2 separate regions of the Homo sapiens genome follow, and region 1 is linked to region 2. The links come from fine-mapping of genetic effects on plasma protein levels. A gene starts in region 2. The other region holds a variant in brackets. All regions are shown on one strand. Distances are between the middles of the regions.

Region 1 (8,294 bases), 22 kb after region 2:
GACAGAGTGAGATTCCATCTCAAAAACAAAAAAACAAAGTAGGGCAGATGACTGTCACTCCAGAGGGTCTGAGTGCAGCTCTGCCTGAGGCTGGAGTCAGCCAGATATCCATCCAAACCGGATTTCCAGCCCAGGCCCATATGGGGTTAGCAGATCTACAGTGAGGCTCAGCCAGGCTTTTGGGTTTATGAGTTCACCGGGAGGAGTGGGGTGTCTTCGTCTTTTATCCTCAGGGTCTGATAGGTGCACGCTTGTTGAATGAATCAGAGGACTGCCTGACTCCTGTTAGGAGTTGAAAATGAAGGTCACCGTGTCTCATCTCCCACCCAATTTGGCATGATTTTTTTTTTTTTTTTTTGAGGCAGAGTCCCGCTCTGTCACCCCAGGCTGGAGTGCAGTGGCGTGATCTCTGCTCACTGCAAGCTCCGCCTCCTGGGTTCACGCCATTCTTCTGCCTCAGCCTCCCAAGTAGGTGGGACTGTAGGCGCCCGCCACCACGCCTGGCTAATTTTTGTATTTTTAGTAGAGACGGGGTTTCACCGTGTTAACCAGGATGGTCTTGATCTCCTGACCTCGTGATCCGCCCGCCTCGGCCTCCCAAAGTGCTGGGATTACAGGCGTGAGCCACCGTGCCCAGCTGCAGCATTTTTTTTTCATTCCTAGGAACAGAGTCTGACTCCTAGCTTAAATGGAAGGAATCGATGGTAAAACATTGGAGGTGGAGGTTGCAGTGAGCTGAGATGGCGCCGCTGCACTCTAGCCTGGGTGGCAGAGCAACTGAGACTCTGTCTCAAAAAAAAAAAAAAAGAACTACCATCAGAAAGGCGGAGAGGATGAGAGTCCCTCAGGACAGGTGAAAGGGGCAGGAGAAGGTCAGAGGCCTGACACACCCAACATTGTCACAAAAAACTGTAAGAGAGGCTGTGGGAGCTATGAGTCGGGAACCTGGGTGCAAACCAATCTCATCCTCACAGACACCCTTGAGGGTCTGAATTGCAGCTTGCAGGTTGATGTGAGTATCTGCTGTTGCCGGGAGAGGAGGAGGGGCCTTCAGAGCACATGAGCTTTGGAAAGGCCCGGCTGTGTGCTGCTCTCCGGAGGGTGCTGGAGGAGGTGTGACAGTGGACCCTCAGGTCTCCCCAGAGGCTCCTGTGCCACCATCTCCCCCCGGGCAGCGCAGGGCACTCTCCAGTGCGTTCCGTGATGAGCTCTCCGTCACTGTCCTCCGCCCTCAGCAGGAAAGACTTTGGTATTTAGTACGCATTCAGGGAAGGAGAGTGTGGGTTTGCGTTTGTAATTCAGGTAGAAGGACGAGGGCATTTTATCCACACTTATTTCTCAAGTTCCAGTTTTTTAAACTGGTGGTTAGACCTGATGATGTTTTATTTGTGTTTCCAGCTTCTTGTGACCACTCTACAGAAACAGGGTGGGAAATGAATGTGCCACATGGATCACAGGTGAAAAACAATTGTCAAAGCAGCGTAGGTTACACTTTTTCTGTGCGTCGTGTGGCCATCTAGACTAGAATTTGGACAAGACTGGCCGGTTTTGCACATTTAACTTTTGCCTGTTTAACCCTGGTCTGTAACATTTTATAAAGGAACCGTGAAGCTGCTTTTTTTTTTTTTTTTTTGAGACAGGGTCTCCCAGGCTGGAGTGCAGTGGCACAATAACTGCTCACTGCAGCCTCAGCCTCCCAGGCTCCAGTGACCCTCCCTAGTCAGCCTTCTGAGTAGCTAGGACTAAGGCGCATGCCACCATGCCTGGCTCATTTTTTAAAAAAACTTTGTGGAGATGGGGGTCTCCCTATGTTGCCCAGGCTGGCCTTGAACTCCTGGGCTCAAGCAGTCCTCCTTCCTTGGCCTCTCAAAGCCCTGGAATTACAGGCATGAGCCACTGCGCCCAGCAAGTGAAGCTGTTTTGGAAAGGACTGGTCAACCTGCAGCTTCGCCAAGGGCAGTGAGCAAGGGTCCCTGAGCACATCCCAGGTTGGGACGGCTCCCAGTGGCCGTCAGTGCCTCTCACTTCAGAGTTTGGTGTGGTTACTGCAGCTCCTCTCTGCCATCTTGTGCTCTGTCCAGAAGGGGCTTTTACACCGGGGTGCGGGGGCACTCCTGTGTGTGTCTCAGAACCCGTTGGGGTGCAGTCATAGGCGACGTTGCCTGTCTCTTTCCTGCCCTGAGTAGATGGGATATGAAGGTGGGAATTGGCCACTGAATGTTGAGATGGAAGCGGAAGCAGCAGGTGACTGATGGAGTTATGAGTGGCAGATTCCCTGCAGGGTTGCCCACCCTGGATATGTGGGGCTCACGCGTGGTGACTCAGCCTAGCAGAGATGTGGAAAGGATCGAATTGGGTGGAAATTATATAAATATTATTCTTGAGTATCCACAGAAACAAGGTGGTAAAAGAAAGAACCTGATTTCAAGGTTGATGGTGTGTTAGTGAGAGTGTTGGCCACAGAAGACTCGGTAGAGCTCTACCTAGGGTTCAGTCTGTCTTGACTTTGAATATAAATTTGTGTTGTGAACATCTTGGTGGGTGAATTGCTGAAGGACAGAGTCACATTCAGACTGCTGGGCATTCCCCAGGGGTGCCATGTGCCCCCCCACCCCCACGGATTCCCTGAACTGTGCCCTCTTGTCTGGGGATTTCAGACGCACCCACACTCACTGCCTTCTCCCTCGTGAGGATGCTTGCCCATCCCCCACAGCCCCCTCCCCAAATGAAGACCCAACACAGCTGGCTAGCCTTGCCCGCCTTTGAGTCTCTGCTCACACGTGGGGTCCTCATGGAGACTGCCTGACCCCTGTCCTGCCAGAGGGCCTCCTTGGCTGCTCTGCGTCCCACCTGGCCGGTCTGTGTGTGCTGCAGACCCTCTGTTTCCCTCTGGGTAGTGTTTCCAGCACGATCCTGGCGCTCACCCGACAGCTCAGGGAGCAGTGTCTGAGTCGTCACCATTTCCCATGGGGTGAGGTGGCCGGCCACGCAGCACAGCTTCCTGCGTCCACTCCTTCGTGACAGCGTTCAAGGCTTTCTCACCCTCACTTTAGGAAGAGGGTGGCACAGTGGCCCCTGTCCAGCCACGGGGCTTGGGGTGTGGTGGGCGGTGCCTGCTGCCCAGGCAGAACCGTCCTGGGTAGTGGGAGGTGGAGGCTGAGGGTGCCCCACGGGCCTGTGCCTACCGCCCTGAGCCGTCTGCAGGACCCAGCTCTTTCCTGCGCGTCTAGAAAGGCATTAGCGAGAGCCACCTTGGGAGACTGAGAAAATAGTCACCAAGGACGCCAGAGTCCACAGATGTAGTTTTGTTTCTGAGTTTGGATCTTACTGTAACTGCTGATGGTTATGAGAAACCCAGACCTGAATCTCCCTCCACTGCACCTGCAGAGACACGCTGTGAACAAGACAGGCCTTCCCCAACCACAGCGCCCCCTGCGCCACCCAGCCCCTCGCCCTCACCCGTGCCCAAGAGCCCCTCTGTGGACAAGTACAACGTGAGCGGCACCAACGGGACCTGCCTGCTGGCCAGCATGGGGCTGCAGCTGAACCTCACCTATGAGAGGAAGGACAACACGGTAGGGCTGGGGCCTCACCTGGGAGAGGGGGACGGCACGGTAGGGCTGGAGCCTCTGCTCCCTGTGCACTGAGAACACGCGTCTCTGCACGTCATGCTGTTAAGTCAGGATGGGAGCTTAGCTTGCAGGACGTGACCCTAGAGGACAAGAGCTGGCGTCTGTGTCAGTGAGTCCATTTTGTAGGATCACAGCCGTCCTGCTGGTTCCATCATCCAAGGCTGGTGTCCCAGCATGGCCTATTGGGCAGTGTGGCCCACAGAGCCTACAACTTGGCCCCTGATAGAACCTAAGTTTTCTTTACATATTTATCATGGAAACATTTAAGTGTTACATTTTTATAGTTTTCTTTTGAAATAGTTTTTCTCCCCTAGTAGTGACAGGCTGTGGGGTTGTGGGGGTCGACTTGCGTGCCGTGGGGTGAGTTTGCAGGGCTGACTGCTGCAGGGGGAGGTGGTGCTGCTGGTTGCCCTCCACGCGGGGACGCTGCACTCCAAGAGCAGCTGTCACGGGGTCAGGGAGAGTCATCTTGGGATCCCGAAATCTGTACTAGTGTGGTCTTTCAGTGTTTTCCTTCTGGTTTTGGTTAAAACAAATGTGGCCTTGAATTCACGGTTTCAGGACTGTTTGTCTTTTCGAGAGTGTGGAGGACCTGAGCTAGGGTGGTGACTTGCTTGCTTGTCTTATGCAGACGGTGACAAGGCTTCTCAACATCAACCCCAACAAGACCTCGGCCAGCGGGAGCTGCGGCGCCCACCTGGTGACTCTGGAGCTGCACAGCGAGGGCACCACCGTCCTGCTCTTCCAGTTCGGGATGGTGAGGCTGGGGCGGCACCTCTCTGGGGGCGCCCACTGTGTCTCCACCACATCTTTTTGTGCCCTGGGTCTGCTCATGGGAGGCAGCGTTAGGAAGGAGGCGGCCTCACTTTTTTCTGCCTTCCCTTTATCCTGGGCTTTTTAGTTCCTTGGTTCCCCTCCCCCCTTTCCATTCCATTCATAGATGCAGCAGATGATGTGGGCGGGGCTGCTGTGCCCACAGTTGGAGTGGCTGCAGGGGAGGGCATGCAGGCCGTGCGGCCTTCTGGCTTCAGATGCTGCTGCCCTGTGGTTCCGTGGTGGCATTTCTGCCTGGGAGGACTCCTGTGCAGTTAGCAACATAAGACATGAAGCATATAATTGTCACTTGTCAGTCTTTTTAAATCGCTGTGCAAATGAATTAACAGTTCAGTTTCTTATAATTTTAGCTTTCCAAATCATGCTTTCCTGTGCTGTGATAGCTCCTGCAGTCCCCGTTTTCCAGAGACTGACTCTCAAGAGGTCT[G/A]GAAGGACCAGCCTGGGCAGCACAGGGAGGCTCCATTTCTGCAAATAATAAAACGAGTTAGCTGGGCGTAGTGGCGCACACCTGTGGTCCCAGCTACTTGGGAGGCTGAGGTGGGAGGATCACTTGAGCCCAGGAGTTAAGGTTGCGATGAGCCGTGATCACTCCACTGCACTCCAGCCTGGGTGACAGAGCAAGACTCTCAGAGAAGGGTCTGGAAGGAACTAACCAAAATTTTCATTCCCCAGAGATACACAACGCCTTTTATAGACAAGATCTTTTGCAGTTTTGTTCTAATACTAGAAATGTAGGAAGTCAGGTTTATTACCCAATGACCATTCACGTTTGATGATAAATGTGTGAATCTACTGGGGTTAAAGATCATCTTTCTATGAATCTGCTCCGTGATTAAAGATCATTTTTCTTTTTAAGAATGCAAGTTCTAGCCGGTTTTTCCTACAAGGAATCCAGTTGAATACAATTCTTCCTGACGCCAGAGGTGAGAACCCACAATCTCTGCGAGCCCCGCCCCCGCCCGCGCGCCCAGGGTATTCTGGAGCCACTAGACCTCTGTGTGTGTTGCAGACCCTGCCTTTAAAGCTGCCAACGGCTCCCTGCGAGCGCTGCAGGCCACAGTCGGCAATTCCTACAAGTGCAACGCGGAGGAGCACGTCCGTGTCACGAAGGCGTTTTCAGTCAATATATTCAAAGTGTGGGTCCAGGCTTTCAAGGTGGAAGGTGGCCAGTTTGGCTCTGGTGAGTGTCACCGAGGGCAGCTGTCGCGGGGTGTGGAGGACGTGCTTCAGACTCCGCCTGTGGACGTTTAGTCGCTTCCGTGTGGGCTGGGGCGACGCCCCTGTTCCTCTGCAAGGAGCTGTTTCTTCTTGCCGGTCTGAGATTCTAGAGGTAACTCCCCCTGCTTTAGAGAGGCCCAGCGTGTCTCTCAGCTGGGAGCCCCTGGTACCATTTGAGAGTAAGGGAATCATTTTAAGAAACAGTGGTGGCGCTTCTCCCATGAACGTTGAATACAACACTGTCATCTGATGTGCACAGAGGCCCTGGACGCAGCACAGCTGTCCGGCCACAGCCCCTGATTCCAGACGGGGGAGAGACGTGTGTGGTTTCCTCGCCGTGCAGAGAGCACCAGTCTCTGCAGCGGCTTCCCCAAGTGACAATTCCAGCTAGAGCTGGAACCTTCCGCCAGGGTTCCTCTTTGCCTTTTGGCTGATGTGGGGGAGTGGTGGGGAGAGAGGCCTGTTTGCAGGCCCCTGTGTGAGCAGAGCCCTGACACCATCCGTCTGTCTTGGCAGTGGAGGAGTGTCTGCTGGACGAGAACAGCATGCTGATCCCCATCGCTGTGGGTGGTGCCCTGGCGGGGCTGGTCCTCATCGTCCTCATCGCCTACCTCGTCGGCAGGAAGAGGAGTCACGCAGGCTACCAGACTATCTAGCCTGGTGCACGCAGGCACAGCAGCTGCAGGGGCCTCTGTTCCTTTCTCTGGGCTTAGGGTCCTGTCGAAGGGGAGGCACACTTTCTGGCAAACGTTTCTCAAATCTGCTTCATCCAATGTGAAGTTCATCTTGCAGCATTTACTATGCACAACAGAGTAACTATCGAAATGACGGTGTTAATTTTGCTAACTGGGTTAAATATTTTGCTAACTGGTTAAACATTAATATTTACCAAAGTAGGATTTTGAGGGTGGGGGTGCTCTCTCTGAGGGGGTGGGGGTGCCGCTGTCTCTGAGGGGTGGGGGTGCCGCTGTCTCTGAGGGGTGGGGGTGCCGCTCTCTCTGAGGGGGTGGGGGTGCCGCTTTCTCTGAGGGGGTGGGGGTGCCGCTCTCTCTGAGGGGGTGGGGGTGCTGCTCTCTCCGAGGGGTGGAATGCCGCTGTCTCTGAGGGGTGGGGGTGCCGCTCTAAATTGGCTCCATATCATTTGAGTTTAGGGTTCTGGTGTTTGGTTTCTTCATTCTTTACTGCACTCAGATTTAAGCCTTACAAAGGGAAAGCCTCTGGCCGTCACACGTAGGACGCATGAAGGTCACTCGTGGTGAGGCTGACATGCTCACACATTACAACAGTAGAGAGGGAACATCCTAAGACAGAGGAACTCCAGAGATGAGTGTCTGGAGCGCTTCAGTTCAGCTTTAAAGGCCAGGACGGGCCACACGTGGCTGGCGGCCTCGTTCCAGTGGCGGCACGTCCTTGGGCGTCTCTAATGTCTGCAGCTCAAGGGCTGGCACTTTTTTAAATATAAAAATGGGTGTTATTTTTATTTTTATTTGTAAAGTGATTTTTGGTCTTCTGTTGACATTCGGGGTGATCCTGTTCTGCGCTGTGTACAATGTGAGATCGGTGCGTTCTCCTGATGTTTTGCCGTGGCTTGGGGATTGTACACGGGACCAGCTCACGTAATGCATTGCCTGTAACAATGTAATAAAAAGCCTCTTTCTTTTTGGGGTGGGCCTTGTCCTTCTGTCAGCTAAAATGGGAGCTCATGAGAGAAGGACGTCAGGGAAACGGGGTTGAGGGTGGTCTCGGTGCAGAGAGAAGGGTGTCAGGGAAACGGGGGGTGAGGGTGGTCTTGGTGCCAGACGTAGGGAATGGTGTTGGGAGTGGCCCGAGTGCCTGGCACAGTTGTCTGGTTCATTCATGTAACATGATAATTTTTAAATCATTAAAAAAATTACCTTTCATACAGATACCATGGAATACTATGCAGCCATAAAGAGGTATGAGATCTTGTCCCCTGCAGGGACACGGATAGAGCTGGAAGCCATTATTCTCAGCAAACTAACACAGGAGCAGAAAACCAGACACCACTTGTTCTCACTTGTAAGTGGGAGCTTCTGATGAGAACACATGGACACAAGGAGGGGAACATCACACACTGGGGCCCGTTGGGTCGGGGGCAGGGAGAGCATCAGGAAGAATAGCTAAGGGATGCTGGCTTCATACCTAGGTGACAGGATGGTCTGTGCAGCACATCACCACGGCACACGTTTACCTGTGCAACAGACCTGTACACCCTCCACCTGTACCCAGAAGTTAAAAGTTGAAGGGAGAAAATGATCTTTCTAAAGAGAAATCACCTACTACGTGCAGAAGCCTCACATAAACTGCACGCTCTGTCACAGAAAGGAATGGAATATTGACACTGCCGCTGTAAGACCTCAGTGACCACTCACTATGTTAATTTCCAGTCAGCTGAGAAACTGATCACAAACACAGGTGTTGGCATACTTTATTAGATACAAACCCACACTCACATTTTATATATTATTGATCTCTCAGGTAAAAATAAGTTTTCTTTAAAAAGTATGACTTCATAGCTAATCATCAAAAGCTGGTAGAATGACCTGATTTTAAACTGCTCTTTTAAAAAATTCACAACTAAAGTGTAGT
Region 2 (8,294 bases):
GGGAAGCTAGGCCCTGTGGCCTGAGTCATGCAGCACGTTTGCAACTTCAGCTTCTTGGACTGGTTAGGCTGACAGGTGACCACACAGCCTCTTGTTCTTGTTTTGTAAATGACTAGGAGAGACCAGAGACCAGACTTCCCCGCTTCCCATTACTGATCTTTGCTGTGGACCAGCCGCCTCCTTCATTGTCCTGTGCATCTGTCCTAACTCAGACTAGATGGCACGACGACCCCGTGACGTAGTCCGTGTGGAACGCCAAACATACCTTTCCCAATAGGAAAAGACCACCTTGGCTAATCGGAGCACAGTAACTGTGCATTCACCCTCAGAGAGAAAGATGCTGGAATTGTGTTAAGTTTCCCTAAACTTCATCTATAGAAATGATCCCAAACTGCTACATTTCAGAACACCGACTTCTGTTCTTTGGAATCTGTGCTTCCTGGGCGGCCTGTCCTCAAACTTTGCACTTGAATAATCTCTCTTTAAAGTAGATTCTGACTCTTGATTATTTTAGGTTAACAATGTCTTCAGGGAAATATATTCCACACTGAATTCCTAACTTAAAAAACAAAGAAAAGCTATAAAATGTGAAAAAAAAAAAAAAAAAGGTCAGGCGCGGTGGCTCATGCCTGTATTCCCAGCACTTTGGGAAGCCAAGGAGGGTGGATCACTTGAGGTCAGGAGTTCAACAGCCTGGACAACATAGTGAAACCCTGTCTCTACTAAAAACACAAAAATTAGCTTGGCATGGTGGTGCATGCCTGTGATCCCAGCCAATTTTTTAAAAATTGGCCAGGTGTGATGGTGTGCACCGGTAGTCCCATCTACTTAGGACGCTGAGGTGGGAAGGCCGCTTGAGGCTGCAGTGAGCCTTGATTCCAACACTGCACTCCAGCCTGGGAGACAGAGAGAAATCCTGTCACAAAACAAAACAAAACAAAAAAGAAAGAAGGGGGAAGAAAAGAAAAAGGAAAGAATCAGAAAAAGAAGAAAAAAAGAAAAGAAAAGAAGGGAGGGAGGGAGTAGGGCATCACTTTGTCTAAATAATTGTAACCACAAAAAAGTGGAGACAGGTGAAGTAAATAGATGAGTATGGCCAGAGCATGGGGCAGCAGCAGGAAAGGAAAGAACAGATATGTATGGTTTGGACTAGATGAGTGTTTCTGAGCCTTTTTTTGATAAATGCCCTCCCTCCGTTCTGATACACACTTTAGGACACAGTGTGGGAATCATGTCATCTCTGAACCTCCTTCAACCAAGATTTTGTCCAGCATTAGATTCTATTTTTGCATTGTTAAGCAGGTTTTTGTTTTGCACCATAAAACTGTAATATTCAGTATGCTTGTTCAAACACCTCTCCTACTTTCTAAACCCTACTTCTAGCCTCCTTAAGAAGCAGTGGATCAGAGGAGTCCCCGAATTTAAACCTCCAGAGTTTCGCGTAATTGTCTCATTCCACTGCAGGGGAGAAAATATAATTTCTCTTCTTTCTCTCTTTATTAGTTGAGACATTCTCCTGAAAACAAAATTCAGAGCAACAGGAGAAACAAGCAGAAGTTTATTAGCACTTGCTGTACCCATCGTGTGAGAGGCCTCAGTTCAGAAGTATTTCTCTCTCAAGGCATGTTGTGAACAGCACAAGGTCAGACATAACCAGGTCCACACACGTTTATGTCTTTCCACAGGGTGGGAATATATTGATGCTATTTCAATTATAAAAGCCACGAGCTACGAGGAGTTGCCTCGAGACAATTCCCTTCAGTACTACTTGTTAACTTGGTAGAGCCATGGGCAAAGGCTCAAGCCAGTCCACGTGTCAGTCAATACTGCAAACTATACATCATAGTGTACTTAAAATACAAACGCTATGGTTTAAACATTCCCCATCAAACAAAGTAACATTGGACATCAAGAGAAAGAGGATAGGAAAAGGGGTTAATGGATCAATCCAAGGAAAGCAATGACGGGAACAAGGAGTGTATTCCAGCCTGATCCAGACAGAAGTCATTGTCTTCCAAGGAAGTCCTTGATGTGAGCAGATCCTTAGGCAGCAGATGCAGGGTGCTAAGCACAAGTGACAGCAAGGTGGGGTCTATCAAAATGCCAGTGTTGAATTGGTCAAATCCCGCCCTTTTTAAGGTCACAGTCCTCTGGTGAGGACTGATAGTGAGTGCCTGGTCCTGTCTTTATCTGGCTGAGTGCTGTCTCTATTAACTAGGTGCACATCCAGTCCCCGTTGCTATGATGCCTTTTGAAATGTAAGATTAAATCTTTTTCTAAGATGTAGGTACTTATGCGACGGGTGCTTTATACAAAGCAGTAGCGTAGGGGCCTTAATTAAATAGTATTTTAACAAAAGGCCATAAATCCTATATGATGACAAGCCAAAAAACAGAGCATCTTCAGACTTCTAAAATGCAGGAGCCAGGCGCCGTGGCTCAGGGCTGTAATCTCAGCACTTTGGGAGGCCGAGGCGGGTGGATTGCTTGAGGTCAGGAGTTCGAGACCAGCCTGGCCAACTGGTGAAACCCCGTCTCTACTCAACATACAAAATCAGCCGGGCGTGGTGGCGCACGCCTGTAATCCCAGCTACTTGGGAGGCTGAGGCAAGAGAATCGCTTGAACCCGGGAGGCGGAGGTTACAGCGAGCCGAGATCGCGCCACTGCACTCCAGCCTGGGCGACAGAGCGAGACTCCGTCTCAAAAAAAAAAACAAAGTGCTCGACAGGAACTTTCTGTAAGCCAAAGAGTATCGCCATCGCACCTTCACCTTCACCTTGGGCAGCCTGGTGCCGTCTTCCCTCAGCCCGCGATTAACGAGCGGAAGGCCGCACTGACCCATTTCAGATCCCTTATTTCCTTCCTAAAACCACTCAAGAGTTTGGGCACAGTGGCCTCCCTGTGTGAGGAACTTGCTTCCCACTCACCAAAAGACAAACCCTTCGCCCATCCCTGGCCGCGCACCCGGCCGGTCACCCGCGCTGCCACCCACACCACCCTCCTGTCCATAAAGAGCCCGCGTTTGGGACGCCTCGCAGGCTGAAGGGAGGCCTGGGCGTCCGCGATCCGTCTGCCCTTTCTCCCCTCGCGGGCTTCCTCTTTCCTCACTTTCTCCCGCCACTACTCTTCCTCTTCCTTTTCCGCGAACCCAGCCCACTTCCCGTTTCAGGACCTCGGCTCGGCCCCAGTCCCCCGGACCAGGCCGGGTCACGTGGGTCCAGGGTCACGTGCCGCTGCGGGTCACGTGCCGCTGCGGGTCACGTGTCGGCCTGCATCACGCGTGAGGGGGCGCGCGGTGCTGGAAGCTGCCGCACCTGCGGGGAGCCGAGCCGCCGGCGCTCGACGCGCGCGCTCTCGCGAGACCCGCGGGATCACGTGACGCCCGGGCGCGGCGCAGCTCACGTGACAAGCGCTGCCGGCCGCGGTGTCTTCTTCGTGCCGGCGTCGCAGTGGCCGGGCCTCTTGCGTCTGGTAACGCCGCTGTCTCTAACGCCAGCCCTTGGCGCCCGCGCCCCGCCACCGCAGCGCCCGGCAGTCCGCGGCCCAACCGCCGCCCGCGCCCCCGCTCCCCGCACCGTACCCGGCCGCCTCGCGCCATGGCGGCCCCCGGCAGCGCCCGGCGACCCCTGCTGCTGCTACTGCTGTTGCTGCTGCTCGGTGAGGGGGTCGAGGCGGGGCCTGGGAGCGGCGGGACCGGGCGGAGCCGAGGTCCCTGGGTCTTGAGGGCGGGGGACTGCCGGGTCGTTGTCCCGCGGGTCGCCCCGCACCCACTGCTCCTGGTCCCGGCCGGCTCTGCCCGCGGGCGGGTGTTTCTCTCGGGGTCGTAGGGTCGGAGCGGAGCTCAATGGCAGGTGCTTGGGGGACCAGGAGGTCTCATCCCAGGACCTGGCTCCTCTAAGGTCTGTCTCACTGAACTCAGTTTTTCTGTGGTGGTGAGTGCGAAAGGGAACTTCCGATGGCTTGCTCGGCGGTCTGGTGCTTTCAGGTCGTTAAGTTTCCTGGCAAGTTGAGGCGGTGAGATCTAGACGAGGCTGCGCCGCCGAAGGTGGCAGGGACGTCTGTGGTCTCAGCTCCCGGGTGGGTGACCTAGATCAAGCTCTTCCCAACATGGATTTCACCCAGGACAGGGAGAAGCCGGTGCGAGCATTCCCCACCTTTGTACTTGAACCTTTCTCCTCTTTCAGCGGTGTGGAGGAGATGCGAGTGTATTTATGTTATTGTGAATTCACATGTATGTTAAAATAATTTTTAAAGTTATCTTTGGGATTTCACAAGATTCCGTAGTAGACAAGATGAGGGAAAGCTGGCCTCAGACTCACGGTGGCAATGTTCATGTCTAGTAAGTAGTTTAAAGAGCGCCGTTCCTGTAGGCCGAAATGCGGGACCAGGGAACACGTGGGGAAGCACCCTTCTCTTCTGTCAGTTTATAGAGCTCAGATGGGCAGTAGGTGCTCAATATTGTATTGACTAGTGAATTTCGTTCTCATTTATTGTCTTAATAAGAGGATGTGTGCTGTCTCTTTAAGACAGTCCGGATTGCCCCCCGCCAACACTATTCTTTCACCTCCTCCCCCCGCCGCCCTCCCCCGTAATATGAGAAGATTATCTTAAATGCCAGGATCTGAAAGGTGATGTAGAATCAAGCTGGGGGAGTGTGTGTGAGTTAAGTAGATATAGAAATACACTCCTGTACACATCTGCCTTGACTTCTTTAAATCCCTCAGTCCCATCCAGCTGTAAAACTCTGTTACTGTGAGTGAATGGATCTTGGCTTCCCTTTTTTGTTTTGCCTGTTGTGTAAAATGAATTCTTTGAACTGCCTGAATAGCCACAGAGATGAACTTATTCCAATAGTAAGCCTGAAGCCTTGCTCAGCTCCTGCGACAGGGTCAGGTGTAGTTAATGAAAGGAGTTGCAGAAACAAGTTTTGTCATGTCACAGCAACTGCATTGTTCTTTGTTACAGATGCTCACAAGCCTCATAACTTTGATGTTTTGTTTCATGTTTTAAAAACTCACTTCAGGCCGGGAGCAGTGGCTCACGCCTTTAATCCCAACACTTTGGGTGGCCGAGGCAGATGGATCATGGCGTCAGGAGTTCGAGACCAGCCTGGCCAATATGGCGAAACCCGGTCTCTACAAAAATACAAAAATTAGCTGGGCATGGTGGCGCACGCCTGTAATCCCAGCTACTTGGTAGGCTGAGGCAGAAGAATTGCTTGAACCCGGGAAGCAGAGGTTGCAGTGAGCTGAGATCAAGCCACTGCACTCCAGCCTGGGCAACTGAGGGAGACTCCGTCTCAAAACAAAAAAAAAATTAACTTTAAAAATGAAGAGAAAAAATCCATAACTCCCTAATATTGTGATTGGAATATTGCTTGTGTAATCAGTCTTCTAAGATCTGTTCCATTATATCTTTTATGTTTACAATCTTAACTTTTTTTTTTTGAGGCGGAGTTGCTCTGTGCCCAGGCTGGAGTGCAGTGGCACAACCTCGGCTCACTACAACTTCTGCCTCCTGGGTTCGAGCAATTCTTCTGCCTCAGCTTCCTGAGTAGCTGGGATTACAGGCACCCGCCACTATGCTAGGCTAATTTATGTATTTTTGGTAGAGACTAGGTTTAACTATGTTGGTTAGACTGGTCTCGATCTCCCGACCTCGTGATCCGCCTCCCTCTGCCTCCCAAAGTGCTGGGAGTACGGGTTTGAGCCACCGTACTTGGCCCAAGAATTTTTTTTTTTTTTTTTTGAGGCAGAGTCTCACTCTGTCACCCAGGCTGGAGTGCAGTGGCGTGATCTCCGTTCACTGCAGCCTCCGCCTCTTGTGTTCAAGCAGTTCTCCTGCCTCAGCCTCCCTAGTAGCTGGGACTACAGGTGCGCGCCACCATGCCTGGCTAATTTTTGTAGTTTTAGTAGAGATGGGGTTTCACCATGCTGGCCAGGCTGGTCTCGAACTGACCTCGTGATCCACCTGCCTCAGACTCCCAAAGTGCTGGGATTACAGCCATGAGCCACCGTGCCTAGCCAAAATCCAACTTTTAAAAAAGGCCTTTTAACAACTTGCATTTAAAGATATTTAAAATGTTTATTTTAATGTGCGATTTCACCAAAAATCCTTTTTTCTTAAAAAAAGAAACTGCTCAATTACAAATTTCCACTATATTAATAATTAGGCATTGTTTAAAGCTACTGTGTTTGAATACTTAGAAAGCTCAAACATGAACTGAAACTTGTCCTGATAGATAGGATTAGCTGTGATTGCGTAATGTGACCCTTTAAACCATTGATGTCAGCAGGATGACCGCCTTACCCTTTCCACTTGAACAACTGTCACTTAGGAGGTTTGAACAATTTTATACTCGGCTGGGTGCAGTGGTTCACGCCTGTAATCTCAGCACTTTGGGAGGCCCAGGTGGGCGGATCAGCTGAAGTCAGGGGTTTGAGACCAGCCTGGCCAATGTGGTGAAACCCCGTCTCTACTAAGAATACAAAAATTAGCCAGGCGTGGTGTGGTGGCAGGCGCCTGTAATTCCAGCTACGTGGGAGGCTGAGGCAGGAGAATTGCTTGAACCTGGGAGGCAGGGGTTGCAGGGAGCTGAGATCGTGCCATTGCACTCCAGCCTGGGCAACAAAATCGAAACTCAATGTCAAAAAAAAAAAAAAAAAAAGAAAAAGAAAAGAAAGAAAAGCTGGGTGTGGTGGCTCATGCCTGTAATCCCAGCACTTTGGGAGGCTGAGGCAGGCCGATCACTAGGTCAAGAGATCGAGACCATCCTGGCCACAACATGGTGAAACTCCATCTCTATTCTTTTTAAAAATATTTTTAAAAAGTTAGCCAGGCGTAGTGGCACAGGCCTGTAGTCCCAGTTACTCAGGAGGCTGAGGCAGGAGAACTGCTTGAACCCGGAAGGTGGAGGTTGCAGTGAGCCGAGATCGTGCCACTGCTCTTCAGGGCAACAGAGCGAGACTCCATCTCAAAAAAACAAAGAAAAAAATTTTTTTTCTACTAACCGATGTTACCTTTGATTGTGCAGATTGTCAGTTATGCGGTGGAAAGAATGAATTTGTCAGCAGATTTGAGGTCAGAATGTCTTTGTAGCCCTGTAATTTTGAATTTGTATTGCATTAGCCCCATCCCAGACAACGTTACCCTTTCTTCTCTGTACCCAAGACTTTTATTGCATGTGCTTCTACATGGTAACATCTGTTCGGCTGCACTGGGATTATTTTTGCCTGTGTATCTCCCTTCCTTAACTGACAGGTAGTAAGTGCTGAGTACATATATGAAGAAAGGATCAATTTTATAGCAGTGGCTCTCAACCAAACATATGCACGGATCCACACGATCAGCTTTTTAGAAATATACATACCACAGCGAGGCACAGTGGCTCATGCCTGTCATCTCAGTGCTTTGAGGCTAAGGCAGGAGGATTGCTTGAGATCAGCCTGGGCAACATGGCGAGACCAGTGTCTCTACAAAAAAAATTAAAAAGAAATATACGGCCGGGCACGGTGGCTGTCACGTGTAATCCTAACACTTTGGGAGGCCGAGGTGGGTGGATTGCCTGAGCTCAGGAGTTCGAGACCAGCCTGGGCAATATGGTGAAATCCCATCTCTACTAAAATACAAAAAAAATTAGTCGGGCATGGTGGCGTACCCCTGTAGTCATAGCTACTTGGAAGGCTGAGGTAGGAGAATTGCTTGAGCCCGGGAGGCGGAGGTTGCAGTGAGCGAAGATCATGCTACTGGACTCCAGCCTGGGTGACAGAGTGAGACTCTGTTTCCATTTAAAAAAAAAAAAAAAAAATATATATATATATATATATATATATATATATATATATATATATATATTTACACACACACACACTTATACCTTGCCTCTAGAGGTTGTGATTCAGTGCCTGGGATGGTATTTTTTTCCTTTAGTTCTTCATAAATGATTGTGCATCATTGGTTAAGTAGAATAAAAATACCATATTTAAAAGAATCAAGCCAAGAAAAACTAAGATGTGATTTCTTTTTTTTTTTTTTTTTTTTTTGAGACGGAGTCTCGCTCTGTCGCCCAGGCTGGAGTGCAGTGGTGCGATCTCGGCTCACTGCAAGCTCCGCCTCCCAGGTTCACGCCATTCTCCTGCCTCAGCCTCCCGAGTACCAGGGATTACAGGCATGCGCCACCATGCCCGGCTAATTTTGTATTTTTAGTGGTGACAGGGTTTCTCCATGTTTGGTCAGGCTGGTCTCAAACGCCTAACCTCAGGTGATCTGCCCACCTCGGCCTCCCAAAGTGCTGG

Which allele goes with the higher level. Alleles are on the strand shown, and positions count from the first base shown. The strength of an association depends on the size of the effect and on how common the allele is.
As copies of A replace G in region 1, the plasma level of the protein whose gene starts at base 3,401 in region 2 goes up (weak association).

What was found. PIP is the posterior inclusion probability: the model's chance that the variant is causal. The UK Biobank Pharma Proteomics Project read protein levels with antibody pairs (Olink). The fine-mapping took linkage between variants from a reference panel, not from the people measured, so its PIPs are less certain.
Region 1: its variant is fine-mapped to the plasma level of the LAMP1 protein (UK Biobank, PIP above 0.99).

Annotation. Positions count from the first base shown.
Region 1 is chr13:113,316,082-113,324,375 of GRCh38, forward strand. LAMP1 (lysosomal associated membrane protein 1) reads left to right here. Exons shown (of 9, transcript NM_005561.4): 5 at 3,388-3,575; 6 at 4,264-4,389; 7 at 5,323-5,389; 8 at 5,476-5,646; 9 at 6,201-7,591. The coding sequence ends at 6,340. It overlaps GRTP1 (growth hormone regulated TBC protein 1), which reads right to left. Exons shown (of 8, transcript NM_024719.4): 8 at 8,082-8,294. Among named protein-coding and RNA genes, the nearest start is that of LAMP1, 23 kb to the left of the region's middle. The variant G/A (reference allele first, on the strand shown) is at 4,894.
Region 2 is chr13:113,293,839-113,302,132 of GRCh38, forward strand. It overlaps LAMP1 (lysosomal associated membrane protein 1), which reads left to right and starts at 3,401. Exons shown (of 9, transcript NM_005561.4): 1 at 3,401-3,657. The coding sequence starts at 3,597. RefSeq lists silencers at 3,532-3,811, 6,116-6,410, 6,283-6,362 and an enhancer at 4,042-4,221.